Homo sapiens: one gene and its partner. The protein of the gene in region 1 purifies or fractionates together with the protein of each later gene. This does not show direct contact. Each region holds a gene or a part of one and is shown in the gene's direction. Other genes may lie near its edges.

Region 1 (16,014 bases):
AGGAAGAAAGTCTTTTGCTGTCTCCCCAAACTTTGGATGCTGTTGTGTGAGTATATGAATGTGTGTAGTTGTTGCTATCAACTTGTGATCATGAGAAGAAGGCCAAGGAAAACAAAAGTATTATGGGCACAGTGCCTTGGCATCATTGAAGTGCTGAACAAATGCTGGCCTTGCCTACTCCCAAATTTTGTTTTGTAATATAATGACATTAATGTATTGGATAAACCAGTGCTATTCAGGTATTCTGTAGCCTGCATTTAAATGTATGCTGGTGGTTACTGATGAACCTTGAAGGGAAAGTAGAGGGAACATGGAATATACGTACAAAGAACGGGAGCCAAGGAGACAGCAGGTATCCTGGAAGAATACTAAACAGGCTCTTAGTTAAGAGACAACAGGACCACAGAAGACAGAACAGAAAGCGGGTGACTTATGCTGATGGTAGGTATGAGACATCCCTCCCTCCATGTTGCGGAATAGTCTGTAGCCAACCATGTACCTGAGGATAGTGGGGGGAAATGTCAGTGGTTCGTTCATAAAGCAATTGAATGAGAGGGAGAACTAGGACAGTTAAGAGAGATGTCAGTGGCCTAGAGTAAAGCCCTCCTCATTCTGGTATTTAGAGAAATATGAGGACAAGCTCCCCGCCTATTTACCCTAATGAAAAACTTTAAATTAACAAATTCTGCAACATTACCAGAGTTTTTTATCTTTAAATGTGATTGGACATCAATAGATTACCAAAAGAAAACATTCAACACACAAGAGAAAGACCTAGAAAAAGAGACAAAACAATGTTTCCAGAGTAAAGAGAAAGAGTTCAGAAAAAATAAATTCAAATGAAAATATAATAAGTATAAAGATAAAAAATAAAAACAAAACTAATTTTCTTTTCACTTTGTATAGCTTTAATGCAACGTATTTTACACATATAATTCATTAAAGTGTAGAATTCAAATATCTTTAAGTAAATTTACCAAGTGATGAAACCATCACCACAAATCAGGTTTTAGAACATTTTCATCACCCAAATAAGATTCCTGTGCCCACTTACTGTTAATTCCCTTTTCCATCTTTTGCCTCAGGCAACCACTAATCTGTTATCTGTCTCTGCAGATTTGTATTTTCTGAATATTTTACATAAATGGAATCACACAGTATGTGGCTTCTCATGTCTGTCTTCTTTCATTTAGCATTCCACACAAGATTTGAAACCAACACTTAGCTTTGTTTGCCATAATGTGGCAATCATAAATTATAATTATATGGCATTAGTACTTTAGTGACACAGGAATTTAATTTTGGAGTAGTATTCAAAATGCTTCTTTTAATTACCTTGTTTATATTACAGTAGCAGGTAAATTCCATGGTATGGTAATTTGCTTTAAAATTGACCAAAATAGATTTATTTTCCTACACAGACACACACACATATTCAGGCACAAAAACATTCAGACAAACACACAGACCCCACAATATTATTTAGCAGGTTTACAACATTACTTTTCAATCTTGACAAGAACAACAGCATAATTGATGGTTTAGGTGACATTTCCTAAAATCCTCTCTATCTTCCCAGACTGGTTCACGTGTCCTTCTCTAGTATTCTCAGAGTTTGCATATATGTGACATTGTTCTTACCAGATTGTATTCAAATGAACGTACATGTGTCTACAGCGTGATTTATTCACAGTGTTTGTCAACATAAATAGAACTTCTTTAAATTAGCTCGAGTGTGAATTTAGACATTTAATATTATATTTATTTCCTTTTGTTAGGTGACTAAATTTTAGAAATACTTCTATCATTTCTCTTTTCAAATTTGTTATTTTGAAGCTAAATGTTTAAATTATTTCCAAATTAAAAATAATCAAAGCCTACAGTAGTTCAAATCATAATTTTTGGAAAACAAAATGGAAAATTATCTCTTAATAGCTATATAGCTTCAGCTGGCCAATAATGAAATCCAAATTTGCAAATGTTTGTTTACCATATTTTGGAAATCTAAATTTCAGTAAGGAATTACCCTTAAAAGTCATTTAAATAGAGAGTCCCTCTGTACATGTGGAATATCACTTTCTTCATACTGATCTCATTGGGAATATACAAACTACATTAGACATGCCTATATCTAAACCTCTGGTCTAGCTTTGTTTGATCATAGGACTTTCTAAGCCAATGTTTGGACTCATTTTGGCTTCTGCCTAGATTATACCATCTGCTTTCTGCCTTCCAGAATTCATAAAATCGTCTTTCTAATCATCACCCCTTTCTTTTTTCAACTCCTTTGTGGACATTTTATTCCATTTTCTGCATCTCTTTTGTTTTTGTTTTTTTTCTTTATTTCTTATTTCAGAGGATTGGAGTGGGAAGGATAAGGTATACTGTGTTTCAGCCTTGCATTTAAACCAAAAGTCTCAACCATGTTTTTTTGTTGTTGTTGTTGTCTTTTTTGAGACGGAGTCTCACTCTGTCGCCAGGCTGGAGTGCAGTGGCACAATCTCGGCTCACTGCAACCTCTGCCTCCCAGGTTCAAGTGATTCTCCTGCCTCAGCCTCCCGAGTAGCTGGGACTACAGGCGCCTGCCACCAAGCCCAGCTAATTTTTGTATTTTTAGTAGAGACGGGGTTTCACCATGTTAGCCAGGATGGTCTCGATCTCTTGACCTCGTGATTCACCCACCTCGGCCTCCCAAAGTGCTGGGATTACAGGCGTGAGCCACTGCGCCTGGCCTTCTCAACTGTTTTTTTTTTTTTTAAAACAAAACAAAACAAAAAAACATTATTTTAAGATTGAGTATTGGCAGTCGGATATTTTTGTCAGAAGGAATTTGCTGATATAATAGAAAATGCTGCTAATAATTGTTTTTTCACACCATGAGACTTGTTTTAAGTTGTGGGAAGCCTTAATGGCTTTTAAAAGAAAATGATCAAACAAGTCATTCTTCTTTGTTGTTTGTTTTTATAGAGATTTGCCTGCTGACCAAAGGACGTCGTACTGCCAGTGTTCGAGCTGATACATATTGTCGTCTTTACTCACTTTCCGTGGACAATTTCAACGAGGTCCTGGAGGAATATCCAATGATGAGGAGAGCCTTTGAGACAGTTGCCATTGACCGACTAGATCGAATAGGTACTCTAGTTTTCTACCTTCTTTATATAAAATTTAATCTCCTGGCATAATACAGGTTTGCAATTATAAGTCCCAAATGCAGTGGGGAGTGGTGACTCATGCCTGTAATCCCATCACTTTGGGAGGCCAAGGCAGGTGGATCATTTGAGGTCAGGAGTTCGAGACCAGCCTGGCCAACATGGTGAAACCCTGTCTCTACTAAAAATACAAAAATTAGCCGGGTGTGGTGGCGTGCACCTGTAATCCCAGCCACTCAGAAGGCTGAGGCAGGAGAATCTCTTGAGCCTGGGAGGTGGAGGTTGCCCTGAACCAAGATGGTACCACTGCACTCCCGTCTGGGAGAGAGAGTGAAACCTTGTCTCAGAGAAAAAAAAAAAAAAAAAATCCCACATGCCAGTTTATAGCTTGCTTGTTAATTTGTGTAGAAATAGCAATTAGCTGTAGCCGTATTTCTTGAGAGATCTGGGTCCCTATCTATCTCTTCTAAGTATTCTGGGTTTATTTATTAATGTCTATTTTTGCTAGCTAAACAAACTGATTTCCCGACTGATGCCAAAACAATTTGAATCTTCAGGTAAAAAGCAATGATAAAAATTCTAGATAGCATTGAAATAGAACTAAAAATATGATATATGAGTCTATATTACAAACTAAGTTTTATCACTTTTTTTGTATTTTTGGATCAACTTTACATTTTATCTTTATATTAGGAATTGAAAATTTGCACATTTAAATTAATCTCAGCAGAGACATAATAAAATGTTTGTAATATAGACTCAAGCAGAAAAAAAAAGCCTTGATAGTAATGCCCTACATAGATGCTTTACCTCGCAAACATCAACATATTTTAAAGTCTTTTCTGCTACCAAATAAAAAAATATATATATACAACCATTAGGCCTTATTAGTTATGCTAGTTTGAAGATTTGCATAATTGCCATAGTAAAGTTAGCTTGGATTGGCTTGCTGTTAACATTCCTAGATATCCTGGAACATTATGTTGTAAGGTAGTATGCATTCATTTTCCACACCTAAACCCTCTTTGCCACCCTCCCCTTCTCTACTTTTTTTTGGTCAGCTCGACTCTGCTCAACCTTCCTCTCTCTGTTTAGATATCACCTCCCTCTAGAAACCTTCTCTGACCTCCCACTCCCTACTAAGCCCAGTTCCTTGGATGCATTCTCCTATAGCCTCTGAAGCTCCCCCATCACAGCACTGCTTTTATTACTGGCTCTAGAGATGCTAAATTTGTCAATGTAGAGCTCATGTTTAATTCACCATTACATTCACAGTACCTAGTATACAATGAATATTTGTTGAAGAGAGGTAGGAAGGGAGGAAGGAATAAATGAACTCAAAAAAGATGGGGCTGGGATCACTTGTGATAAACAAGGAGGTACCTCAACTGCTTCATTCTTATTAAAGGTAAGGACTTCAGATTGATAAATTGTTATGTTGGCTTTTTTTCTGCACTTCACATTCACATCTTCCTTTCTCTCTATATTAGTAGGACAGCAGACTGCATAGAGATCTGAAAATAGATTAGAAGTAAAGGCAGTATTTGGACATCATCATTAGATATAACAAACGTATTAGAAATTCATATTGAAATCTTAGAGATTTAACAAGACCTACTCATTCAGGGAGACAATACCCACAAAAGAAGTAGGCACTCCTGAAGGCATCCTTACTTAATTGGAAAATAACTTCCCTCTTTGTAGTGTGTGAGTGTTTATGTTAGAGACAGAGACTAATTTCTAAGCAATGAGTTTCTTCCTAAACCAGCTAGACATCCTTAGAGAAAACATTAAAATCAGGATATTTCACTAGATAATTTCTGTTAATCTGATACAGCTTCACTTTCATCTAACTTATTGCAGTTAATTTTTTTTTTTTTTTAAGACAGAATCTTGCTCTGTTGCCCAGGCTGGAGTGCAGTGGTGTGATCTCGGCTCACTGCAGCCTCCGCCTCCCAGGTTCAAGCAATTCTCCTGCCTCAGCCTCCTGAGTAGCTGGGACTGCAGGTGTGCACTGCCACGCCCTGCTAATATTTTGTATTTTTAGTAGAGACGGGGTTTCACCATGTTGGCCAGGACGGTCTTGACCTCCTAACCTCATGATCCACCCATCTCAGCCTCCCACAGTGCTGGAATTACAGGCATGAGCCACCGCGCCCAGCCTGCAGTTAATTTTTATAACAATATTTACATGAAATGGTTCGTAATCAATACAGGCAATGCAATTTCTAATAGGCACTAAGCAATTGAATTTTTGATCTTTATAACATAGTAAGAGTGTATTAAAAGTTACATTATTTTTCCCAAGGTTAAAGATACTTAGATTAAGATATTTTGACTGTTCACATAATCAGAAAGAAACATTATGCTTCTCGGTTTTGTGGCCATTGCATATAGATGTATGCTGCAGTTAGTTAAGCAAATATGCTAAATAAGCATTTATATTTATTACTAATGTAGGAGTTTTTGTTCTTTGGGAAATTAGGACAGTCTGTAAGTAGGGAGAGGTAACTATTTTGGCAGTCATTTAAAATGATTGCATTCCTAGCAGTCAATGAAATTACAATACATATTTATCTTCAAAAATATATTTTGTTACCTTTAATGTGTTAGTTTATTTAGCAATATCGCAAATTGATTCACTTTTCAGTTACCATATTCACTTGGAGATTAGTGTATCAATGATGCCATAGAAAAGTCACTACTTTCCCCTTCTTTCACCAATCCACTATTCATTCTAATAATTATTATGCCAGAGACTGTCTAGTATTGCAAACCACTCAGAAGATGATGGCAGGAAAAGCTGTATTGCAAACCACTCAGAAGATGATGGCAGGAAAAGGTAAAATTTATTGAGGTCTTAGAGGGAGCTGAGAGCCTGCAATGCACTATGCCCTTGGTCCTCACAACAACCATTCAGAAGAGGAAAGATCATAAAGTCAGTCTCAGTCTTGGCTGCATTTAAGAATTCCCTGGGGAAGCTGGGCGTGGTGGCTCACGCCTGTAATCCCAGCACTTTGGGAGGCCGAGGCGGGTGGATCACAAGGTCATGAGATGGAGACCATCCTGGCTAACATGGTGAAACCCCATCTCTACTAAAAATACAAAAAATTAACCGGGCACGGTGGCGGGCACCTGTAGTCCCAGCTACTCAGGAGGCTAAGGCAGGAGAATGGCATGAACCCGGGAGGCAGAGCTTGCAGTGAGCTGGGATGGTGCCACTGCAACTCCAGCCTGGGCATCAGAGCGAGACTCCGTCTCAAAAAAATAAATAAATAAAATAAAATAAATAAATAATAAATTTTAAAAAAAGAATTTCCTGGGGAAATTTGCTTTTAAACTACTGAAATTCAGAGCCCATGTATGATTATTTAGATTTAATTGGTAGGGAACAAGTGGATGTTAGTATTTTTTAAAGCTCCAGAGATAAGAAAAATATCCAACTAGGACTGAGAATGACTGGTGTAAGACACTGGGTCAAAAGCAAAACCTGATACAGTCCTCCTCAGATTTGCATTTGGGAATCACCTGGGGATCTTAGTAAAATGCAACATCTGATTCAGCAAGTGGGGTCAGGCCCAGGAGGCTGAGTTTCTAGCAAGCACACAGATGAGACAGGGGCAGTTGGTTCATTTTCCATAGCAAGGATGTGCAATCACTTTTTTGTGTATATGGTCTTTCTCAGCCCTGTTACCTGCCAACCATGTTTTTTTTTTGTTTTCCTGGGCACTGTTCTTAGTCTTCTCATGTCCTGATCTCCTTTCAGGTAAAATGAGATTATGAACACACCTATCTGACAGGGTCGCGGGTTACATAAAATCATCTACCTAAGGTCTTTTGTAGAGTGCTTATCACATAGTACGTGTTCAAATGTTCTCGCTTATGTCTCCATGGTCCTTTCTTGAAAAAGTAACTTTAAAATCAAATGTTGATTCCAAGCCCATCCTATTCCAAAAGCCCTTTCTTCCCCCATTCTTCAAGGTGGCCCTCATGTTAAATATCTCCATTTCTTCTGTAAAGTGGCTCTTTGCCATATTACAGGCCGTTCAACTTGAGTAGAAGGTAAGAGTTCCCAGAGAAATACAGGAAGTGTGAAAGGTAGGAGCCACATTGGTATTTGGTGTGTAAAGGTGAGTGACTGGCTTTTTAAGCCTCTCCTGTGAAGCACAGCTATACTTCTGTTTGCAGGAGCCACTCTCACTTGGCGTTGTCATCAGTCATTGGTAGGCTTTCTAAGTGCCTATCTTTCTTTTGCTGACAGGAAAGAAAAATTCAATTCTTCTGCAAAAGTTCCAGAAGGATCTGAACACTGGTGTTTTCAACAATCAGGAGAACGAAATCCTCAAGCAGATTGTGAAACATGACAGGGAGATGGTGCAGGCAATCGCTCCCATCAATTATCCTCAAATGACAACCCTGAATTCCACATCGTCTACTACGACCCCGACCTCCCGCATGAGGACACAATCTCCACCGGTGTACACAGCGACCAGCCTGTCTCACAGCAACCTGCACTCCCCCAGTCCCAGCACACAGACCCCCCAGCCATCAGCCATCCTGTCACCCTGCTCCTACACCACCGCGGTCTGCAGCCCTCCTGTACAGAGCCCTCTGGCCGCTCGAACTTTCCACTATGCCTCCCCCACCGCCTCCCAGCTGTCACTCATGCAACAGCAGCCGCAGCAGCAGGTACAGCAGTCCCAGCCGCCGCAGACTCAGCCACAGCAGCCGTCCCCGCAGCCACAGACACCTGGCAGCTCCACGCCGAAAAATGAAGTGCACAAGAGCACGCAGGCGCTTCACAACACCAACCTGACCCGGGAAGTCAGGCCACTCTCCGCCTCGCAGCCCTCGCTGCCCCATGAGGTGTCCACTCTGATTTCCAGACCTCATCCCACTGTGGGCGAGTCCCTGGCCTCCATCCCTCAACCCGTGACGGCGGTCCCCGGAACGGGCCTTCAGGCAGGGGGCAGGAGCACTGTCCCGCAGCGCGTCACCCTCTTCCGACAGATGTCGTCGGGAGCCATCCCCCCGAACCGAGGAGTCCCTCCAGCACCCCCTCCACCAGCAGCTGCTCTTCCAAGAGAATCTTCCTCAGTCTTAAACACAGACCCAGACGCAGAAAAGCCACGATTTGCTTCAAATTTATGATCCCTGCTGATTGTCAAAGCAGAAAGAAATACTCTCATAAACTGAGACTATACTCAGATCTTATTTTATTCTATCTCCTGATAGATCCCTCTAGCCTACTATGAAGAGATATTTTAGACAGCTGTGGCCTACACGTGAAATGTAAAAATATATATACATATACTATAAAATATATATCTAAATTCCCAAGAGAGGGTCAAAAGACCTGTTTAGCATTCAGTGTTATATGTCTTCCTTTCTTTAAATCATTAAAGGATTTAAAATGTCGTTGTAAGATTATTTATTTCTAACCTACTTTTACTTAAGTCCTTTGATATGTATATTTCTCTATTTTATGAAGAGTTCTTGGATTCAATGGAAACAAAACTGATTTTAAAAAGGCAACTCAAATGAACTAGTAAATAGCACCAATCAAAACTTTCTTTCATTAGCTGTGTCTCTGCATCTAAATTGTTAATCATTAATGGTGGAGAATTAAATAACAAATCCCATTTTATAGATCTAAATTGTATTTCGGTGCTTTCAATTTCAAATTAGGTTAAAGAATGCACTACTTGCTTGGCCACCGTAGGAGACTAGCATTGCCACTGTTTGTTAAGAATATCACTAACCTCAAACATGTTCATTGATCTTTCAGAAAGCTGAGGGAAAATTAATATTTGTCTTCATGTGTTATCGGACTTTTACCAAGACTCGATCAATGTTAGTTGTAAATAACTTTTTCAACCCAAATAAAAATAGCTATTCTGTGTTGTATGAAGGTAAAAGTCATTGTTTAAGAATTTAGTTTTATTGCTTCACTTCAAAACTTAGAGTTTTAAATTTTACAAAACCTGATTGTGAGAATTATTCAATTGTAATGCAATGGCTTGAAACCTACAATATTATTTTAACCTGCAATGTTTTATGCAAAATTGTATGCTCGAATCTACAAATTGCTTGTATTACACCAAAAATCGTTACTTTTCTTTCTTCTTGCCATAATCAAGCATCTGAAAATAGTCCCTGCATGCTTCTGGGGAAAAAAAAATAGGTTCAAATCAGTCATTGTAGAGAAAGGCTTACAGTATTTCTCGTTTCTAGAAAAGCATAACAATTCATTAATTGCCTATCTTATAATTCCTATAAGGCTGACTTGGATCTCTGACTTAAGTCTAGAAGTGAGGTTTTCACTTTTATTTAATATTATTGCTATTATTATTTAAATAATTATTTGTAAACCACAGCTTGATTTGGAGTTAAGTGTTGTCTGTGTCTTCACTGTAGCTGGTAATTTACTATGGTATTAATTTAAAGAAATAAATTCAATACAGCATCACGTCTGTTTGGGAACACACATTTTGCTCTATGTATATTGTAACTAAATGGTTAGTAAACTTTAAGGCATGTGGTGACTAACGTAGCCCTTAGATAGGAGGTTTGTCATTTTTAATGTGTTGAAAATAGTACAGACATGGTGACAGAAAGCAGGGGTAAAGTTGAACGTCTATGAGCATTGTCTGTCTGTTTTCTTAACTCTTTACATGATCTGTGAGCACCTGCTTCTTCTCAAAGAACTCCCTTAGTAATCATTTGTGCCTAATGCATCCCACACATGTGGAGTATGACTGGAACACAATTGAAAGATTCCTAACAACTGGCTGCGGTAAATAACCCAAGTTAAGAGCATGACTTAAAGTGGAGGTCTTCAGTATCTCTGGCACTGGCAATACATTTAAGAACATACAGAGATCACACATTATGTGGGACAGGGCCTGCAGATAGACTTGAGGACAGAAAACAAAAACAAAAGCAGAAACTCTAAAGTGGATCCTTGCTGCCTGTTATGCCTTTTGTGGATATAATACCTATAATACCAAAATGAGTTGTTATGTTTAATTTCAAACAAATCCCAACTGGTGTGGAAGTAATTAACTGCTAGTCGATGTAATGTAATCATCAATATGCTGGTGACATATGATGGCATGTCAGGAATACTGTTGTAAGAAAGGGATTGTTCAGTCTACCTAGAACCTATGGGAAAGCTGCAAGACCATTTACATATCAGTACAAAACTCCTTTATTTTATTAAAATATGAGAATTAACTTCAATTTATTAAGATTACGTATTGGTCCTTTAAATTATTAAAGGTTTACATTTGATAGGATTAATGGATTTGGTAGTGAAATATTTTTATATATATAAATTTTTGGTTTTTTATTTTGAGCACTATTGGGAAACATAAGCAAAATTGAAATGCATGGTCTTTCAGTGCAACCATACAATTTTTATTCACTTTGTAATAGAATGGACAAAAAAACTAAGGTTTATATATTAAACTAATAAAAAGGTACAGGGTAAATTATATACATATATGTATGAATGTATATATACTTAGATTAAGAAAAAAAAATGACTCACATTCCTGTAATATAAAGGTCCATTGCTAGTTGAAAAGTGACCTCTTTTCTCTGTACATAGTGAAGCCCGTATGTATGGAGTTTTAATCTGTACAGAAAGAAATGTATTATTCATTGGTCTTTCTGCTGCTGGAAAGATAATAGAATAGCTGATTCTTACAACAACTGTATGATCAGGGATGAGTTAGAGTATTTCTTTTGTCTTTGCTCAAAGCCATACATATATAAATATATATAAAGATTATTAATAAATTCAACAAAAAATAAACTACAATCATGAATATTTTATTTTATCAATATATGCTAATCAAATGTTTTATTTTATTAATGAGTACAGCTTTGCCTCTATTTTTACATCATAAAATTTCCAAGAGCTTATACTTGATAATCACATAAAATCAATTATATTCTATAATTCTGGAATGAGAGGACTTTAAATAGAACATGGATTTTTCAACCACTTCTTTGTTTACCTTTTTCGTATAGTAAAATATGAGCTTATTTTCTTTTTTGCTCTGTGCCTTTTTAGAATGTGGTTGTTCTCCAACTTCAAAACACAACCATTTTGTGTAATTATTGGATATACAGATGAGAAATAATTTTCCTGTAATAATGGTAAATAATTGTCCTGTAATATATTTATACAAACCTATTTTGTTATAATAGTTCTATGACATACCTATTTTGTTATAATAGTTTTATAACATACCTATTTTGTTATAATAGGGCCTTGGGCTCTATTATAACAAAACAGGTTTATATAAATACATTCATATTTATAGCCTTAAACAAAATAGGTTTGTATAGTAGGCCCAAGGCCCTATTATAACAAAATAGGTTTGTATAAATATATTCATATTTATAGCCTTGGGCCCTGCAAAGTTATTTGGAGAGTGATAGAACCTCCCCACACAAGTGGGTTTTAAATGATACCTAAAAGCCTGAGATAGAGTTTATCATAATGAGAATAAGTAGTGAAGCATTCCTGAAAACAAGGAGGATAAATAGTAGCAATGGCAATATATTCTATTCACCAAAAAAGTAGCTTGTCTCCAGGTCTGGATGACCTCTTCATAAGTGAACAATTCCCTGATGAATGCTGTTCCACTTTAAAGAGATGGTTATTTTGCAATTTATAAACTTAACTGAGCATACTATTTTCAGGACACTACAAAGTACATAGTCAAGTTATTACCGTCATTCCTATAGGACAGAGAATGATTTAAACAATATGACATGTTTAAAATTTTAGATGATTTATTTCAAATCCTGAATTATGTCTACTTCAAATTATGAGCAATCTCTATTATCTTTCAGGACTATTTAAAAAATCTCCATACCTCCTCTTTCAGCTTAGGTTTTTATATTTGTTAATTTTACTATGTTACTTTGCTTCTATGGCCCTCACTTGCACTGTTTATAATGTTAACCTGTTTGAATGAGATATCTCTCCATTATATCTTTATCTTTTTAGAACATGTGCCATAAAACCCATGTGGTTATTTTGTTCATATGCACTACAACTAGCAAACTTTTATTTTATGTTCACCTACTTTAAAAAGTACTCATACTGTACCATGGGAAAGAAACATGGGCCTTATAGAATGGAATGCTGAGCTATTTTGAGTCCTGAAAACAATGGCCAAAAATTTAAGGAACTGTGGTTGCTGCATGCACCAAATTGTAGCACATACAAATAAATAAAATACAGTTCTATAACTGTATTCAATATGGTTATTTTCAAGGAAAAATAGGATAGAAATTTTCTTTGAAAGATTTGCTATTGTACTTAGGGAAGTACACCTGCTATTACCCCTCAAAAGCAATGACTTTCTTAAGCAATTTCAATTTTTTTCCTTTTTAACAACCCTGCACTTGCACAACCCTGCATCTCTTGTCTCACCCTAATGCTGACCCTGCTTCCAATTCAGGCTTTGACAGGGACAAATGGAGATTTTAAGGTTTTTTAATGAGAGAAGCCTTGCTGACACTCCCCGCATCCCACCTTGAAAATTATTTAAAGATGATCTTAAAAGAACCTACAGATAATGCTCTGAATTTGTTTACAAGGTCCTTGATGTGGAGAGAATGAGTAATACATTAAATGCTGGGGAAATAATTATCATTTAGTGAAAAATTAAGCATGCTTTTCTAAAATGTGGATGTTTAACAGAGCACAGCTGATTGGGAACACTGGCAGTTCAATGCAGCTGGAGTGTCTCACAGGGTGAAGAGGAACCCAGATCAAGTGGGAAATAGGGATTTCAAAAACCTTCTGAAAGGCTTTTAACATCAGGGCAAAGGTTTTACAGTGTTGTACTTTATATTCTTAATTTAAGCTTATCAACGGGGAGGATTCACATTGAAATGTCTGTTTTGCTAATGTAACAAGGAATAAAATAATTTATGACACAGCAAAAACTGGGGGCTATTTACAACCCCACCCTGCCTTGTGAGGATGCTGGGTCCTAAGGAAGGTCCTAGGTTTGCTAAATAGAGTAATGGGAATAGGAAACTGAAAGTTTACTTGCTTTGCGTAAGATAATATATTGCGGCAGGGAAGGGGTACAAGAAGATAAGAGCTAGAACCTGTGAGAAGGGAAAGAAGTGATAAAATAATTTTGGCTAAAATAAAGCAAGTTCTCAGGCCAGGCGTGGTGGCTCATGCCTGTAATCCTAGCACTTTGGGAGGCCAAAGTGGGAGGAATGCTTGAGGCCAGGAATTGGAGACCAACCAGGGCAGCATGTCAAGACCTGGTCTCTACAAGGAAAAAAAATTTTTTTAATTGACCAGTATATACTTACATACCTGCAGTGTTTAGAAAACCCGACTATAGGTGGTGTATTCCTGTAGTCCTAGTTACTCAGAAAGTTAAGGCAGGAGGATCGCTTGAACTTAGGAGGTCAAGGCTGCAGTGAGCCCTGTTCGTTCCACTGCACTCCAGCTTGGGGGACAGAGCAAAACCCTTTCTCAAGAAAAACCCAAACAAACAAAAAAGTGAAGCCAGTTCTTTAATTTCTATTGGAGATATCACACACGCTCCAAAGAGTGGCAAAGGTGAACATTCTTTGGAGCTATTATATTTCTAATGTAACATCAATGGCCATTTACTCCCAAAGGGAAACATCTTTTTTTTTTTTTTTTTTTAAGATGGAGTCTGGCTCTGTCACCCAGGTGGGAGTGCAATGGCAGGATCTTGGCCCACTGCAACATCAGCCTCCCAGGTTTAAGCAATTCTCCTGCATCAGCCTCCAGAGTAGCTGGGATTACAGGTGCCCGCCACCATGGCTAGCTAAATTTTTGTAATTTTTAGTAGAGACAGGGTTTTACCATGTTGGCCAGGCCGGTCTCGAACCCCTAACCTCAAGTGATCCGCCCGCCTCACCCTCCAGAAGTGCTAGGATTACAGGCCTGAGCCACCGCACCCGGCCCTGCTATTTTTTTCTATGTAGTTGTTTCAGTAATACCATATGAGCAGAGAATACTATTGATTCATTCAATTGAAGAAATCTGAATAAATTAGTAAATATAATAATTCTTCAAAAGAGGACCACTTTATGTTTCCAATAGATTATATAATTGAATTCAGGTAACGTAGAGTTATTCAGACTTTTTTTTTTAAATAACGGAATTTTGCAAAAAAACAGGTTGCATCGTTTTCTACAGAGAATATTCAGATGTGTAGAGGCAAAGAGACTTTCTTGAAAGGTTTTTATTTCCTGTTAAATTTGTGAGGAAAACTCCTGAGAAAGGAAAGATTTACTTTTGAAGGAAGAAAGAACATAACCCAAAGAAATTTGAAAGATTCAAAAAGAGTTTTCCAAATGTATTCTCATTTCTTTCTCATATTTGTTCAAGGTCTTAGTTTCCAAGCATTCAAAATTAAATCTTGTTTGCCTAACTCTTCTAACATCTATTACCAACCTAACATATTACAATTCTGTTTAAAATGTGCAGTTCTAAATGTTCTTGCGTGCCTCACTGTGGAAAGTGTGGTGCATGGAACTGCAGCGTCAGTATCACCCAGAAGTATAATTACAAGAAGTGCAGAGTCCTTGGCCTTACCCTGTACCTACAGAAGTCCGCTTTTGGGCAAGATCCCCAGATGATTCATATGTGTATTAATATTGAAAAAATTGGAACTAGTAAGTCCTAGAGGAGGTAAATTTTAAGGGCTTTTTAAGGGAACTTCCAAGTGTGAAGACATTTCTGGAGATGACAAGTCAACATAGCATGGGATCTTGGCTAGACAAGGAAAGCGAGAGAACATTAAATAAACACAAGCAACGACAAACCACCTATGTTATAATTTTATCCTGGACCATCCAAAGTTTACTCTTGGTCACGCTGTCTAACCCAGCCTGCCTCCTGGCACTTGCTAGTTAGAACCAGGGAAGAGAAAACTAATATGTGTTAGGTATTATAATTTCCTTATGTCACATAAATTTTGGTGCCATAGCTAGCAATGTTTCTTAATATCACATCAGTACAATGTGTCCATTGCCTTCTGTAACATTTTTAATGCTATCAATAATACATTGACATTATAAAAATAAATGAATGTGGTCAATATTTTGCAAAGAGCTTCTCTTCATCAGCTATATCTATACACCTGCAGTGTTTAGAAAGCCTGACTACAAAAACTGGCTCTACTGCTTATGTCTTGCTCTACTTGCTTATTCTACCCATGGTAGAATTATATAGTCATATTGTGTCCGGAGTTGGTTCCTTCCAGTGGGTTCATGGTCTCACTGACTTCAAGAATGGAGCCACGGACCTTTGCGGTGTTACAACTCTTAAAAATGGCACAGACCCAAAGAGTAAGGAGCAGTAAGAGTGAAAACAAAGCTTCCACAGGTGGAAGCAAACCCCAGTGGGATGCCTCTGCTGGCTTGGGGGTGGCCAGCTTTTATTCCCTTATTTGTCCCCTCCCATGTTCCATTTTTGTCCTATCAGAGTGCCTTTTTTCAATCCTCCCTGCGATTGGCTACTTTTAGACTCCTGCTGATTGGTGCATTTTACAGAGCACTGATTGGTGCATTTTACAGAGCGCAGTTTGGTGCATTTTACAATCCTCTTGCTAACTACAGAGCACTGATTGGTGTGTTTTACATTCCTAGCTACAGAGTGCTAATTGGTGCATTTTACAAACCTCTTGCTAGCTGCAGAATGCTGATTGGTGCGTTTTACAATCTTAGCTACAGAACGCTGATTGGTGCGTTTTACAATCCTAGCTACAGAGTGCTGATTGGTGCATTTTACAATCCTCTTGTAAGACAGAAAAGTTCTCCAAGTCCCCACTCGACCCAGGAA
Region 2 (16,014 bases), on another chromosome or scaffold:
TAATCTATCTTCAGAATATAATGGTAATCTTACTTTCTGGAAATGTTCTGATAAAAACAGACACGTCAGAGGTTGATTTCTAAATGACTTGCCTTGCCTTGAAATAGGAACAGTGAACTGATTCCCTAAAAGGATTAAAGGTTTTGGTTTTCGTATTGGTATTGTTTTCCTGAAGCCATTGCAAACAATCTTGGTCTTTAAAGAAAATGTTTGGAATGCACAGATGAAAATTGCAGTAGCAAATTATTATGTTAGCTCTTTGTTTATCTAACATTCGTTGTACCTAAAATAGATTGAGAGTCAAGTATCCAGTCACAACAGTCTCAAATATATGTAGTCTTAATGCTATCACATATATATATATACACACATACATTTAAAAATCCTATTAACAAATATAACTGCTCCCATTTAGAAAGGAGAGAGTGAGCGAGCATTGGATGATGTCACTTCAGACAGCTTTTCTCTGTTCCGCTGTAGTGGAGATTTGAAACTCTGGACAAACATCAGAATTACATTTGCTGAGCACCATTAAATCTGACTTCTGACAATTTTTGTCATTTCTGAAATAGTGACTCTGCCAGATTCTCAAAATTGCTCACGAGTTCACCATATTTAAATTTTGTGGTCATTGCAGCTATAAGTAATCATTGGTAGCTCCGTGCTTTGTTTTCCATTTTTTATTTTCTCAGATCCTCCATATCCAAAGAAAAATACTACTGGGACTAAAGAGTGAGGGCCAGAGTCGTCTTTGTAAACCACCCAGCAGTCACGGATGAGTTGGTAGATAAAAAATGACTAATTCTTTTTCCAGCTATAAGCTGAAAGACTTCTTTAGGGGATGACAAAATATTTCTCTACATTAAAAGTAGAATCCTTATAATCAGTCAGTCGCTTAACGGGAAAAGGAAAACCTTAATGACAGACTTTTGTGAAAGAAGTTCTGATCTCTTCATTTCAGAGCTTGGGCAGTGATTACATAATGTTCTCTGGCTCCTTGCGGGTGGCTCTGTGGCAGCCACCTTGTCTGACTGCCTGGACTGGGAACAGAATCAGCCTTAATGTGTTTTGCCGAGGGCATTTCCTTTGCCTGGTTGGTTGAAAGAATCAAACCAAGCTAGTTAATGGCCTAGAACTCCTGAACAAGAATTTTTCTTATCTTTAACCCTCCCAGATCACAATATCCCGCAGACCATTGTTTTCCAAAATGTGCTCTTAGGGACCACCTGCTCTGGTTTTAAAATGCAGATTCTGTTACCTTATGCCACAAGAATTCTGATCACTCTAATCAGCTGGCTTATATAACATGCATTCCAGTACTTTTACATTGCTCCTGTCTTTCTATTTTTTTCTTCTGCAGGGTGAGAACTCTCCAGAAACAGTTCTATTACCCCATTTTTCAGTCTTATCTTTTCAGCAGCTATTAATCCTAACAGCCATTTCTATTGATAGTTTTATCTCAACTAGCTTGCTGTTTATTCTTTTCCTGCATTTTCCCCTTAATTGTTTTCACCTTCCTCCTCTCCTAGTAGGCATAAAGCTCTTAGAGCTATAGAGACAGCAAAGATGGGATGTATTTTGGGTAGCAGAAGTGAATTTGAAATTATATACATGTTTTATGCTATAGGCAACAATTCATATATTTTTGTGGCAATACTTTGAACCTTGGGAAATTGTTTTATATTTGCAGATAACAAAATACTTGATGTACTGTATCAGAAGTCCCAGTTTTGTCATTACATAACTACTTGATCTTGGGCTTAAATTTTTAGGTTTTCTGTCTGTAAGATGAGAGGGTAGGACCAGATGGCCTGTAAGGATTCTTCCAGTTTCAAAAATCTATGAAGATGCTAGGATTACATAATTATATTTGGCAGACATTAAATTGTTTTAATTGTGAAAAATAGCAACTACCTCCTCACTCTAACCAGACTATTCCCTTTCTTCCTTTTGGTGTTTAACATGTTACATTCTTCCCTCATATCAAGTAGCAGTGGGTCAAAGAGAAAGGAGATGGGTAGAGGTATTATGTAATAAAGCACATTGTCACTTCTGTTTACCTCACAGTGAACAGTGAAGTTGTCAGCACCTCTTTGTTGCAATGCCTGCTTATGAAACCCCTTTTCCAGTATCAGGCCACAGAATAGCTTAAGCTTGCTTCATATGTATCCCTGCAAGTTGTTTTGCTGACAAATAGTGTTGCTTTCTCTCTACCCCACTTTGTAGATATTCTTTAAAAGGAGAGAGAAAAGTAAAGTGCTGATATAGGAGAGAAAATAGTGGCAGGGTGAGTGCAAGAGAGAAAGTGAAGGCCGACTCACCCAGTAAAAGTTTTGAGTTACCCATGACAAATGGCTGTTTAGACCCTGGTTCTTTACCCTTTCTGGTTTTCCCTATTCACACAATCAAGACTGAAGGTTTTGATAATTAAGCTTTTCGTTTGTGGTGGTGGTTTTGTTTGTGTGTTTTTTGGGGAGTGAGGAGAAGGGACATAAAATGCATGGCTGGCCATTTACTATAATGTTGATATAATGCTCTCAAGGGATTGAGAGCTTGGTTCTCTTTAACCAAAGTGCATCTTATTACCTAGTTATGTAATTCCGTGTTTGCAGATATTGGCCAGTGAAACTTTTACATTACATTTTGGTTCTCCATGAGGATATTAATATCTGAATTGAGGGTTTAGTGCTGGGAAATAAATGAATTGCGTCTGTGCATCCCAAATGCCTTGGCAGGACCTCCTGTGTACACATCCCTGACAGGACACTGCTGTAGCATATTGGGTGTGCAAGGTTGCATATTGCACAGGATTGTAGTCTTCCCAACTAGACAGAAATGAGTATAATATACTTGGCATAATAAGCCTGAGTGACCTCATGGAATTCAACTCTGACATATAAAAGGTTTATGTGACTGGAAGTATTTTTTAAGCAGAAATATCTCAAATACGTTTATGTTACAGGCCTATTTAAATTAATTTAGAATTTGACTTACAAGGTGTTTATTATGCATTTCCAAATCTTGACTTGTGGGTAAATGTACATAGAAACATGTACTAAGTAGTCATTGGGGGAGATTTTATTTCTCTTAGTTTTATCATACCATAACTTAAATGTCTGGCGTGTCTATTCAAAACCCACATTCTTTTTCCAAAAGGAAATACTACTTCCTGAATTCCTAGATTTAACTAAAGCTTCTTGTACTGCTTTGTATGTCAGTGTCAGTAAAGGAAGACTCAGAAAAAAAAATCTTTTTGGGTTACCAGTAAAATCATCCTCTTAAATTTTTTGGCAAACGTGGCATTTTATTAGAGCTTAAAGACTAAAGGAAAAGAAATTAAGGACTTTAGACCGTTACTGAAACCTGTTAAAGGATTTGACAATTCTGAATTTCTGAATGAGGTGATTTTTGCCTAAATGATATACAAAATATTAACACTGGAGCTGTGCTTCACAATGAAAGTCTTTTCCAAAGTAGACAGCTGAAAGTTGAAAATTGGAAATTATAACACTAAGGACATCATTTTTGAAAAATTTCCACTTAATTGTGATTATCCCTTTTAATTAGTACTTACAACACATATTTTTAATAGCTTTAAGGAGATCTACAATACAACCTCATTTTATAAGTGTTATCAACAATTGAATGAACAAGATTATTTTAAATTATTGTGCATTCTTTAAGCTCTTTTATTAGAGGAAAAAACTTTTTGCAGTATTTCTATAATTGTACTTGGGGAAAAATCAGGTAAGAATGAACGTAGACTTTTTATTCTTAAACAGAAAAGTTTGAATCTTGAGTTGTAGCGATGAGGAAATTACCCTTGTTTTTATGGTAGAGATATATTCTGATTTTTCACTTAATGTTTTATCTTTCAGTACTGATAAGTTACCAGCAATAATTTTATGATGTTGAACTAACATAAGTACGACAAAAGAGAAATAAAATTTTCACAGCTTATATATAATACCACTTCTGAGTTAAATATCCTGGACGTTTATTTGGGAAAGTGATACTAAGTATGGTGGTGGATATTTTGTACTTTGAAATTTTGAAATATTTGCATAAACCGTTTTTGGCATAGTTGAATTTCATACTTTAAAAAACAAGTTTGGTGGATTTTTGTGTTTATTTGAATGATTAACTTTAAGGCTCAAATTATTATTTTTTTTTAGTGAAAGCAAGTTTATTAAGAAAGTAAAGGAGTAAAAGAATGGTACTGCATAGGCAGAGCAGTCAAGATGCAAATTATTTTTAAAAGTTGTTTGTTTTCAGAATGAGTTAAGGATAAAGCTTAAGTCTTAACTATTTTCTCTGCTTATATATGATTATAATGTTTTAAATTATTTTATATAAAAATTTTAAAAGATGCATTGTTAATTAAATCACTTGAATCTCTGCAGTATCCAAAAGCAGACCCATTTTTATGCTGGGGAAAATGATTTTTGAGAGCTAGTCTATTTAGCTTTGCATTATCAGTTTTCAGTTTTTCATTTTATATAACTTTATCCAATTCATTTTTTCCTCCCTTTAATACTGGGACATAAAATTTCCTGTCTATCAGTTTTACCTAGGGCCGTGCTAGGCATCTTAAGCAGAGAAGGCAAATTCAGTGTCTCCTGGGCTGAAGCAGATGAATTGTTGAAGCTGGACTTTTTGCATATGAAACAAGTAAGAATATTCTTGGTTTTCCTGCCAGGCGCAAGCCACCGCCTGTAATCCCAGCACTTTGGGATACTGAGGCTGGTGGATCACCTGAGGTCAGGAGTTCGAGATAAGCCTGGCCAACATAGCAAAATTCTGTCTCTACTAAAACAAAAATTAGCCAGGCGTGGTGGCATGCGCCTGTGATTCCAGCTTTTTGGGAGGCTGAAACAGGAGAATCGCTTGAATCTGGGAGATGGAGGCTGCAGTGAGCTGAGATTGCGCCATTGCATTCCAGCCTGGGTGACACAGCAAGACTCTGTCTCAAAAAACAAAAGAATATTCTTGGTTTTCATTTTTAAAACATGAGTCCAGTGTTGCTGGATCCTCCAATTTTCCAAGGCAAGCTAAAAATCAGTACTATTTTAATTTATACAACAATTTTAGCCCAAAACACTGAAGGCATGGGCCACTATTTTATAATCTCCTTTAAAGTGGAACGCAGGACTGGCAAATTATAGCCTATATCTTCAAATACTGCCTGCCTGCTGTTTTTCTGTAGCCCATGGGGTAAGAATGATTTTTATATTTTTTAATGGTTGGGAAAAATATCAAAGGAATGATATTTCTCCTTTTTGCCCAGTACCCTCACTGAATTGTTGGGGAGGGGCTGCTGCTATTCAGGAAGCAGCAGCACTAGCAGAATTCAGGTTATACAGTCATTCTTCAAAAGATTTAAATTTTGTCTCTATCACTTACTTTGATACCTTGGGTAAGTTACTTCAGTTCTCTGTGTCTCAGTTTTTTCATCAGCAAAATAGGGAAAATAATAATCTGTAACAATAATAGCACAATGCCTGGAACAGAGTTAAAAATTAGTAGATTTCAGCTACTGTTATTTTTATTTATTTTTTTGTTGAGAAACAGTCTTGCCCTGTCACCCAGGCAGGAATGCAATGGTGTGATCTTGGCTCACTGCAGCCTCTGCCTCCCGGGTTCAAGTGATTCTCCTGCCTCAGCTTCCCAAGTAGCTGGGATTACAGGCACCTGCCACTATGCCTGGCTAATTTTTTGTATTTTTAATAGAGACGGGGTTTCACCATGTTGGCCCGGTTGGTCTCGAACTCCTGACCTCTTGATCAACTACTATTATTAAAGTCCCAGTTTTCTCTCCTCATCATTCTTGTTTTGGAATATTACTTCTTATATTACTGTTACTGCTTATCCCTGCCTCACATGTCAGTAACAATATTGTTGGTACTTTTTTCACAGCAAGGCATTCTGGTAAAGATTGATTCCTGCAACATAAAAACCCTTAGGATTCAGTAGCTGTACCGATTTCATTTAAAAATGTTATTTATTCATTACATAATAGGTGTTAATAGAATTTGAGTTTTACCAAAGTAATACTAAATTTTAATATGCAAATATATAGTCCTGCCCTATGTCAGAGGAACATACTTTAAAAAAATTGTAGCATCATTGTATACAGTAAAATGCATAGATCATGAGTGTACAGTTAGATAATTTTAAGTCTGTATACCTGGGCTCTAACTCCCAATCAAGCTGAACATTGTTATCAACTCAGAAAGTTATCTTGTGTCCTTTTACAATTTGTTCTCCTTAGAGGTAACCACTATTCTAATTTTTCTCCCCATAGATTAATTCAAAGCAATCATATTCACTTATTAGCTTCTTATGGTCTTTTATTACCATGGTGACCACTAGACCCTCTTCTGCCTTTGTGCAATTTAGAAAAAGATCCCCTCTCTGGTGGTTTGGAGAATAGAGCATCAGTTGGTTTCTAGACCTACTGATTCCCTTGGCCTGGCATCCTTGTACTGGAAACAACCTGCCCAACCATACATGGCGATCTTAACTCCATGTTTCTCACTTTTTGCCCCAGTAGGGCGTGGTGCGGCGGGCAGCAGAGTCTTGCTCTGTCACCCAGGCTCGAGTGCAGTGGCATGATCTCGGCTCACTGCAACTTCCGCCTCCCAGGTTCAAGTGATTCTCCTGCCTCAGTCTCCCGAGTAGCTGGGATTACAGGTGCCCACCACCACTCCCAGCTAATTTTTGTATTTTTAGTAAAGACGGGGTTTCACCATGTTGACCAGGCTGGTCTGGAACTCCTGACCTCAAGTGGTCCACCCACCTCGGCCTCTCAAAGTGCTGGGATTACAGGCTGAGCCATAGCACCTGGCCCTCCATGTTTCTCTTTTAACTCCCTATTTCTCTAAATCAGTGGTTGTTAAACATTTTGCTCTGAGAACTCCTTTATAGTCTTAAAAATTGTTCAGGATCCCAAAGAGCTTTTGCTTTATGTAGGTTATATATATTTCCAAATAACCAAAAAGATTTAAGAAGACTAACAGTAACATTGTTTTACATTCGGCAGTGCCCTTTATTGAATAGCTTAATAGAAGATAGCCGGATTTTCCTATCAAATTCTTCATTCAGTCTGTTGTGATATGGTGCTTAGCTTCTGGAAAATTGCACTGTACAATTTTTATTGTATATAAACATAGCGAGAGAATGAAAGTGAAAATGACAGTTTTATTATTTAAACTAACACAGTCTTAGTTTTATTATGAAAAAAGTTTGACCTTGTGGACCCCCTGAACGGGTGTGTTCCTGGACCACATTTGCAGAACATCTATTCTAAATATTTGCTTATACTGCTGTTTCATGGTTTGTTTTCATTTGTTTTATTTTTTGCAGTTTTAGATAATACCTATTGATAATAGCTACATGGAAGGTGAATATTTAGCTTTTTCTGAATATTTACACACTGCACACATGATCTCTTCTCCTGTTCTAGCAATTTCTGGTTAAATTGATATTTAGTGTTTTTTATTATAATTAACATAAACATTAGTTACATTTGAGTATTGTAGTATACTTTTATTTTACTTCCATTCTTGTATAACAACTTTTTATTTTCCCTGAATTTGATCATGCTTCTTGGGGCAGGAGAGAGGGTTCCTTAATTTTCTACATACTTACTGCTCATTCATTCCTCAGACTCTGACAGCAGTATAATTGTCTTTCTGTGTCTTCAAACTCACCAGGTAACTTACCAAGTTTCTTTCTTTCTTTCTTTCTTTTTTTTTTGATGATTTCTTGCCCATCATTCATTAGTTTTCTATTCCAGACTGGTTGCACTCATACAAATGTCCTGAGAGTCATAATCATCTTGGAAGAATTGCCTTTGTCTTTATCACATGCTAGATCTACAGTTTCATAAATCTGAAGAAAAAGATAAATTTTTAAAAAATCTTACGTGTCTCAGAATCGTTATTCCATCCTCATATTTGATAATTTATCTGGGTGTAAAATTCTAGGTTAGCATTCATTTTTCTCTCAGCATTTTGATGGCATTGCTCCATTATCTTCTAATGTGATGCCATTCTGATTCCTTGTTTGTACATGACTTTTTTTCCCCCTTTGGTTGTCTACAGGCTGGTGATTTTCTCCTTATATCTTTTTTTTCTTTTTTCTTTTATGCTTTCAGCTTTCAACATTTTTATTGACATGACTTGTCTGCTGTCATTCATTTTCATTCTTTGTGGCTTAAGGTTTATTTGTTTTATCCCTTTACTGTCGCTTTATTGAGCTTTCAGGAGGAAGTAAACAAACATTTCACTGGAAATCAATATTAGAACTTCAACTTAGCTATCTTGATAGCTTTTTAAAGATTTGTTAGAATATTTCCTTTTACATTAAAAATTGACTTAATGATAATTAATAATGGATAATAATGGAAACCATCTGAATTACCATTAGCATTAATTTAAGATCAGACAGGATGGTCTAGAAAGATTGATGAGGCATCCTCTGATCGTCCTCTTCAAAGTTCCAAGATTGTCTCCTTCATGAGGAATTTTAGAGGCAACTCATTACCAACTTTGTAGTTTTGCTTTGTGGCATTATTACTCCAACTAACTTAAAAAAGTTTCATTTTTGTAATTAATATGTTGCCTTTTTCATTTATGTTGAAATGCTTATGTGCTGGTGTGCCTTAGTTATTTTCCTTTATTGTTTTAAGTTCACATGTATGTGATTTTAATACTTTTTGCTACCATCCTTTGTAATTTGTTGAACAACAGAGAAAAGCCCTATTAATTTTGACAACATATTAAAAGTAATATTACTGCCTTTGTAATAGTTCACACATGTAGGGCTTATTAGTGTGGGTCAATTTAAGTAAACCTTTTACAACAGTAGAAATTCATGCTGTGGGCCGGGCATGGTGGCTCACGTCTATAATTCCAGCACTTTGGGAGGCTGAGGCAGGAGAATTGCTTAAGAACAGCCTGGGCAACATAGTGAGACCTCCACCTCCACAAAAAAATTTAAAAATTAGCCATGTGTGGTGGTGCACATCTGTAGTCCCAGCTACTTGGGAGGCTGAGGTAGGAGGATCACTTGAGCCCAGGAGGTTGAGGCTGCAGTGAGCCGTGATTGCACTATTACACTCTAGCTGGGGTGACAGAGCAAGACCCTGTCTCAAAAAAAAATTAATTAATTAATTAAAAAGTATATATATTTAATAAAAAAAATCAGGCTATGTGGTTTCTGGTTAGGAGTATTATCCAAGTGTGACATGGTGTCTGTCACTTCATTTATTACCAGAGTTAATTTGCCTAAGCTGTTTGAGTCAGTTTCCTTAAGCAGCACATAGAGTCAAGATAATATTCAGACTTTATTAGCTCTGTGATATTACATAAATAATTTTACTTCTCTGGGCCTCATATTTATCTGTAAATGATGTATTGGATTAAACTACCTTCATGGTACTTCCATAGGGGATCTATTCCTGAGAACTGTATTGATCATATATTCAGAAGCACCTACTGGATAGCCAGGTACTATACCTGGAATTTAAAAATTGCTAAACACCCCAGCTTTCAAGAAACATTGTGTAGCTAGGGAAGACCAACCAGTTATGAAAACCAAATTAGTCACAACCTATTTAAATGCCTATATTTATTCTTAGAAGAAAATCACACCGCTGGATCCAAGAGCCAGGAGAGTGGTGGAGTAAGGGAGCAACATTCAATATTACCACTGAGTTTTTACTGCACATGCCTTCAGTGCTAGGCAGTAGGGCTCATAGGATCAAAGCACTTCTCACATGTAGAGAGACAAGTATTCCTGATCTTTAGAACTATTTTTTCTAGTAGTCATCTTGTTTAACATTTAGAATTCCAAACTTGGACAGAAATTTTCTCTTAACTATCCACATTTAAATTATGTTATACTTTCAGATGAATATACTTGGAATTTTCTTACCAAAAGTTCTGCATTTTAAATGAAATTACCCATATTTGAATATGAATGTATAATTATCTTGTTGAAAGACATTAAAAGCCAGCATTTATATAAAAGTGAGTCTAGAACAGGTTTGTTCTTTTTTTTCTTTAATCTTGACACTGAATTTTATAATGAATTATATAAAATTAGAGCATTCGAATTGTGCTTAAAATTTTTAGGGAAACTGTTGATACTGGTAACAATGTGGAGTTTCATTCAGCCAGTGGTAGAGAAAATCTGTCTTCACCAATTTATCCCGGTAAAGGATATTATTAACAATAAATAACATTTGTATATAATGCTGTTGTTTATGAACATTTACCTGTTTGTGCTAATCTAGGCTTTTTGCTATCCCAGTGCCTTTTACTCACCAATATGAATTTGAAATTCTGCTAAAATTTCACTTTATAAAACGGATACAAGGCCGGGTGCAGTGGCTCATGCCTGTAATCCCAGCACTTTGGGAGGCTGAGGCGGGCGGATCACTTGAGGTCAGGAGTTCGAGACCAGCCTGGCCAACATGGTGAGATCCCGTCTCTACTGAAAATACAACAGTTAGCTGGGCCTGGTGGCATGTGCCTGTAATCCCAGCTACTCGGAAGGCTGAGGCAGGAAAATTGCTTGAACCTGGGAGGCAGAGGTTGCAGTGAGCTGAGATGGCACCACTGTACTCCAGCCTGGGTGACAGTGAGACTCCGTCTCAAAAAAAAAAAAAATGGTTACAGTTCTGTTCAGCATAGATTGAATAAACACAGTAGAGAAATGATGGTCATTTTTTAAACTATGTAGAAAAAAGAATAAGAGATTTTAAACTTATTATTCATATAAATATTCTACTTTGCACTAATCTGCTTGTCTCTGATACAAAAGTGATTAAGTTATGATCCAGTTCTAAATGCATTGCGTTGATAATCTGCCTGTTGTTTTTTTTTTCAAGTTCCAACCTATTTTTATTTAACCTAAAACTGTGCTAGTTTTATGTGATGCTAATAATTTGGTTCAAGTTTCATAGATTTCTGACAGTAGTTACATTATTATGCAGTGGCTTTAAATTTTAATTTTTTTTCATTCTATATTACTGCTTTTATATTGCAGGATTTTTTAACAAAAAAGTATGTTAATGAGGAATCTGTTTTATAGACCTTGTAGTTTAAGTTCTTTTTTTTTTTTTTCGAGACAGAGTCTTTCTCTGTCGCCCAGGCTGGAGTGCAGTGGCATGCAGTCTCTGCTCACTGCAAGCTCTGTCTCCTGGGTTCACGCCATTCTCCTGCCTCAGCCTCCCGAGTAGCTGGGACTACAGGCGCCTGCCACCACCCCTGGCTAATTTTTTGTATTTTTAGTAGAGATGGGTTTTCACCGTGTTAGCCAGGATGGTCTCAATCTCCTGACCTCATGATCCACCCGCTTCAGCCTCCCAAAGTGTTGGGATTACAGGCGTGAGCCACTGCACCCAGCCTAAGTTCTCCTTTTTAAAGCCTTCCCCTGTTCGAATTCCAGTACAGAATAATTCCATAACTTCATTAATCATAACATGTTGGTATAATTCCCAATTTTGACTGTAAATACTAATTTAACTTAACTAAATGAAATCTAATATTGACAGAAGGTCAGAGGCCTTTGTGAAATAGAGTACTCACAAATATAGAGAGCAGCTTTCTGTGTAATGCCAGACACTAGGAAAACTGCTTCCTTTTTATGTGTCAAACATTTATCACGTGGACTTCCTCACTACAGTCAAGACAGCAGCAATCTCATTTCAAAAGGCAAATTAAAAAGCAAAATTCAGATACTGATTTAAGTGAATAAGAAAAAATGCAAACAAATGTTTGATGTCCTCATGGATTGTTAACTTCTCAGCCAGAGATTTTGTGTCTTACATATACCAGATATATTTGATAATCAGTGCAGTTAATAATTAGCGGATCACCACATCATGTCCTTTTGATGCTTTCATACTGAGGAAAGAAACCTAATGTAGAAACCAAATGAATATGTCCCAGTGTACAAAACCCAGAACTCAAAACCCTTTATATGGAGAAGTAGTTTAGATTGATTATTTAATATAAATAGGATCCCAGAAGGAAGTATACCCAGTCATAGCTGGAAGTGAAGATCAGAATTCAAAACCTATATTTGGTCTCCAAGTAGAGAGAAAAAAAAGATAAGAGAGAAGTTGAAAATACTAGAACATTGATGGGAAATTTAGTTTTTGGTTTTGTTTTGTTTGAGATGGAGTCTCGCTCTGTCACCAGGCTGGAGTGCAGTGGCATCATCTCAGCTCACTGCAACCTCCGCCTCCTGGGTTCAAGCGATTCTCGTGCCTCAGCCTCCCGAGTAGCTGGGATTACAGGCACAAGCCACCACACCCAGCTAATTTGTGTATTTTTATTAGAGACGGGTTTCACCATGTTGGCCAGGATGGTCTCGATCTCCTGACCTTGTGATCCACCTGCCTCAGTCTCCCAAAGTGCTGGGATTACAGGCATGAGCCACTGCGCTTGGCCGGGAAATCCTAGTTTTTAAAAGTGCGAATCACTAAATTTTTTTAATGTCCCAGCTGTTTTGCTGTTTTGGAAAGCATTATACCAGCCAAACAACACATCTGTGGGCAGCTGTCCTATGCACCCCCATATTTACCTATGTTACCCAGCATGTTTCTGAGTAACTAAATCTATTTCTGAAGGTTCAGTATATTTTGAGTTGAATAAATGGTATTGGTTCTTTTTTTATGTATATTTTTTGATAATATAATTTTTAACACTAAGAGTTGTTTTCCTCATTAGTATCCTGATTCCTAAAGCACTGTTGTTGAATTTGATACAGAAATGTAAAATATTGTATCTGAGCACTTTGAAAAATGTCTCTTAAAAGCTTCAGTCATCCTGTAAAAAAATGTTCAAATAGAGGTGCCTAAGAATATAAAGTGATTTGTTAGTTTGAGAACAGAATTGAAATTATACGAAAAAATATACATTTTATTTAAGTTTATAATTGAAGCACATTTACTAAAGCCTCTTAGGGAACTGATTGAGGTGACCTAATTCTTAACTAATTGAAGTACCAGAAAAGAATTTGTCCTTCATTTTGTTTAAGATATAACTTCTTAAGTAATTTTATTTTATTATCCAATGCTGAGATTTATTTGAACTAGAAATTAGTACTGTGCCAGAGTGAGAGTGCTCCTGAAAGCCAGGTCTTTCTATATCTACTGTTGCAAGGTGGTTATAGGCCAGCGTGTGCTGCAGTGTCTTCTTTTATAAACTGGGCTAAAAAACTTGAGGTTTAGGAAGATTAATTAGATGATAATTGTACAGCACCTGTGGGAGTTCTGTTACCTTTTAAGCGCGATGCAAGGTGCACCAGTTTTATTGCAGTAGAAGGGAGGAAACGTCTCGGTGACTTGTTTTAAATTAGGCCAGGTAAAGTTATATACCCCAGTGAAGAAGCTCTTACTTGTTAGTGGTTTTTTTCTTTTTAAAATTATGAAATATTTCAGGCACACAAAATACAGAGAACCTGAAGTATATTTTATATGTTTTGAAAGTCTTAAATATCACATACTTACATAATACTTAAATATGTGGTGTTATATGTTGTGCAACGTGCCTTTTTTGGGGGGGTCAGCAATTATGTTTCTTAGGCTTATCTAAAAATCAGCAGTGCTAGTACTTTTTTTTTTTAATTTTTATTTTTTAAAAGAGATAGGATCTTGCTATGTTGCCCAGGCTGGTCTGGAACTCCTGGGCTTGAGCAGTCCTCCTGCCTCTGCCTCCCAAAGTGCTGAGAGTATAGGCACGAGCCACTGGGCCTGGTCACTAGTTGAATCTTTTTAGCAGTATTATATGAATCTATAATAATTTATTTCGAATTTTTTTTTTGTTGCTGACAATGTAGTGTATATTCTTGGACATATTTCCTTACATATTCAAAAGTTTATCCAGGATTTATACCTAGGAATGGAATTGCTAGGTCATAAGATAAATGTATGTCAGAGGTGTCCAATCTTTTGGCTTTCCTGGGCCACATTGGAAGAAGAATTGTCTTGAGCCACACATAAAATACACTAACAATAGTTGATGAGCTGGGAAAAAAAATCACAAAAAAAGTCATAATGGTTTAAGAAAGTTTGTGAATTTCTGTTGGGCCACATTCAAATCTGTCCTGGGCCACACACGGCCATGGGCCACGGGTTGGACAAGCTTGATGTATGTTTATTAGATACTGCCAAATTGTTCTCCAAAGCAGTTGGACCTAAATTTCTGTCAATTGAGTGGAAGTTCCCAAGTTCCCTTTGTTACACACTTTTTCTAGCACTTGGTGTTAGACATTCTTTTATTGCCTGGTAGACAGGAACTCAGTTGATTTCTTCCCCACCCTCCATATCAAAATATAATTTACATGGAATAAAACTCCTGCATTTTATGTGTACAATTTGATTGAATTTATGGTAATTGTATAAAGTCATATATCCACCCCAACAATCAAGATACGAAAGATTTCCATCACCCAAGTAATTAGTTTCCTCATGCCTGTTTGTAGTCAGTCTCCCCTTCCCCAGCCAGTAAGCTGCTTTTGTCATTATGGTTTTGCCTTTTCTAGAATTTGATAAAGATGTGATCATATAGTGAGTAATCTTTTGTGCTAAACTTCTTTCACTTAGCATGTTTTTGAGATTCAGTCCCGCTGGTGTGTGTTATTTTGTTCCTTTTTATTGCTATCTATTTCATGGTATGAATATACCACAATTTATTCATCAGTTGATGGATATTTGGGTTGTTTCTAGTTTGGGGCTAGTATATAAATAATGATGCTGTAAATATTCATGACTAAATTTTTGACTCAGTTGATTTTTGATTATTGATCTTTAAAAATCTTGCCACCCTCTAATTAGTTTAAATAATTTGACTTTCTTAGATTTTCTACATAGACAGATTATTTACAAATAATAACAGTTTTTTCTTTTTTCTAATACCTAATCTTTTTATTGTTTGTGTACTTGCTGTAGGATCTCTAGTACAGTGTTCAGTGGAAACAGTCAATTTTAGTGGGCATTCCTGTATTCCTCAATTAAAAGGGTATGGTGAAGTATTAAAGTTTCACCATTAAGTATGAGGCTTTCTATAGGCTTTTGATTATTAGCCTTACTGATGTTAAAGAATTTCACCCTTTGCTAGTTTGCAAAGATTTTTTTTTAATGGAAGTTGAATTTTGTCAAATACATTTTCTGTATATTTTGAGATAGTCATGGGGTTTTTCTTCTTAAATCTCACGTGGCTTTTTCTTTAAGTAAAGCTTACTCTTTGAAGTGTTAAAATTTAATCACTCTAAAAACACTTTTAATAAATCTCTTAGATTAAAAACTTTTAAATCTTGAGCATACTTTAATCCCTTCTCCATGACTCGGATTGTATTATGGAACATCATTTATCTATCATACGTGATGTTAATTCTTGACTATAAATCGCTCAAAGTAGGAGCCATGTCTTAATCACATTTGATTTCCCACAGGATCTAGCACAGTATATTGCAAATAGCAAGCCTTACTTAATAAATGCTGAACTAGGCTACTGCTCTTGCTAAATAGCCACAGTTTGTTTTACGTTATGAATTATGTTGCATCTCTCCCTTCCCTTATTATCACGCTGGCTGCTGGTATAACTTTTATGAATCATAAAAAATTAAATAACCAGGCTTTTTAAAAAAATAGATCTAAGTTGGCCGGGTACGGTGGCTCAAGCCTGTAATCCGAGCACTTTGGGAGGCCGAGGCGGGTGAATCACGAGGTCAGGAGATTGAGACCATCCTGGCTACACGGTGAAACCCTGTCTCTACTAAAAATACAAAAAATTAGCCGGGTGTGGTGGCGGGCGCCTGTAGTCTCAGCTACTCGGGAGACAGAGGCAGAAGAATGGTGTGAACCCAGGAGGTGGAGCTTTCAGTGAGCTGAGATCGCGCCACTGCACTCCAGCCTGGGCAACAGAGCGAGACTCCATCTCAAAAAAAAAAAAAAGATCTAAGTTTTATTCACTCATCAAATATATGAGTGCCAGCTAA

The links.
Region 2: the proteins of HCN1 (region 1) and ITM2B purify together in Homo sapiens (co-immunoprecipitation; 2 studies listed by IntAct). This does not show direct contact.

The regions. Positions count from the first base shown.
Region 1 is NC_000005.10:45,254,207-45,270,220, reverse strand, and holds the end of HCN1 (potassium/sodium hyperpolarization-activated cyclic nucleotide-gated channel 1), read left to right. Parts: intron 1-2,967; coding exon 2,968-3,132; intron 3,133-7,410; coding exon 7,411-8,300; 3' UTR 8,301-15,273; downstream 15,274-16,014. UniProt on the Homo sapiens protein: Hyperpolarization-activated ion channel that are permeable to sodium and potassium ions. Displays lower selectivity for K(+) over Na(+) ions.
Region 2 is NC_000013.11:48,234,662-48,250,675, forward strand, and holds part of ITM2B (integral membrane protein 2B), read left to right. Parts: intron 1-16,014. UniProt on the Homo sapiens protein: Plays a regulatory role in the processing of the amyloid-beta A4 precursor protein (APP) and acts as an inhibitor of the amyloid-beta peptide aggregation and fibrils deposition. Plays a role in the induction of neurite outgrowth.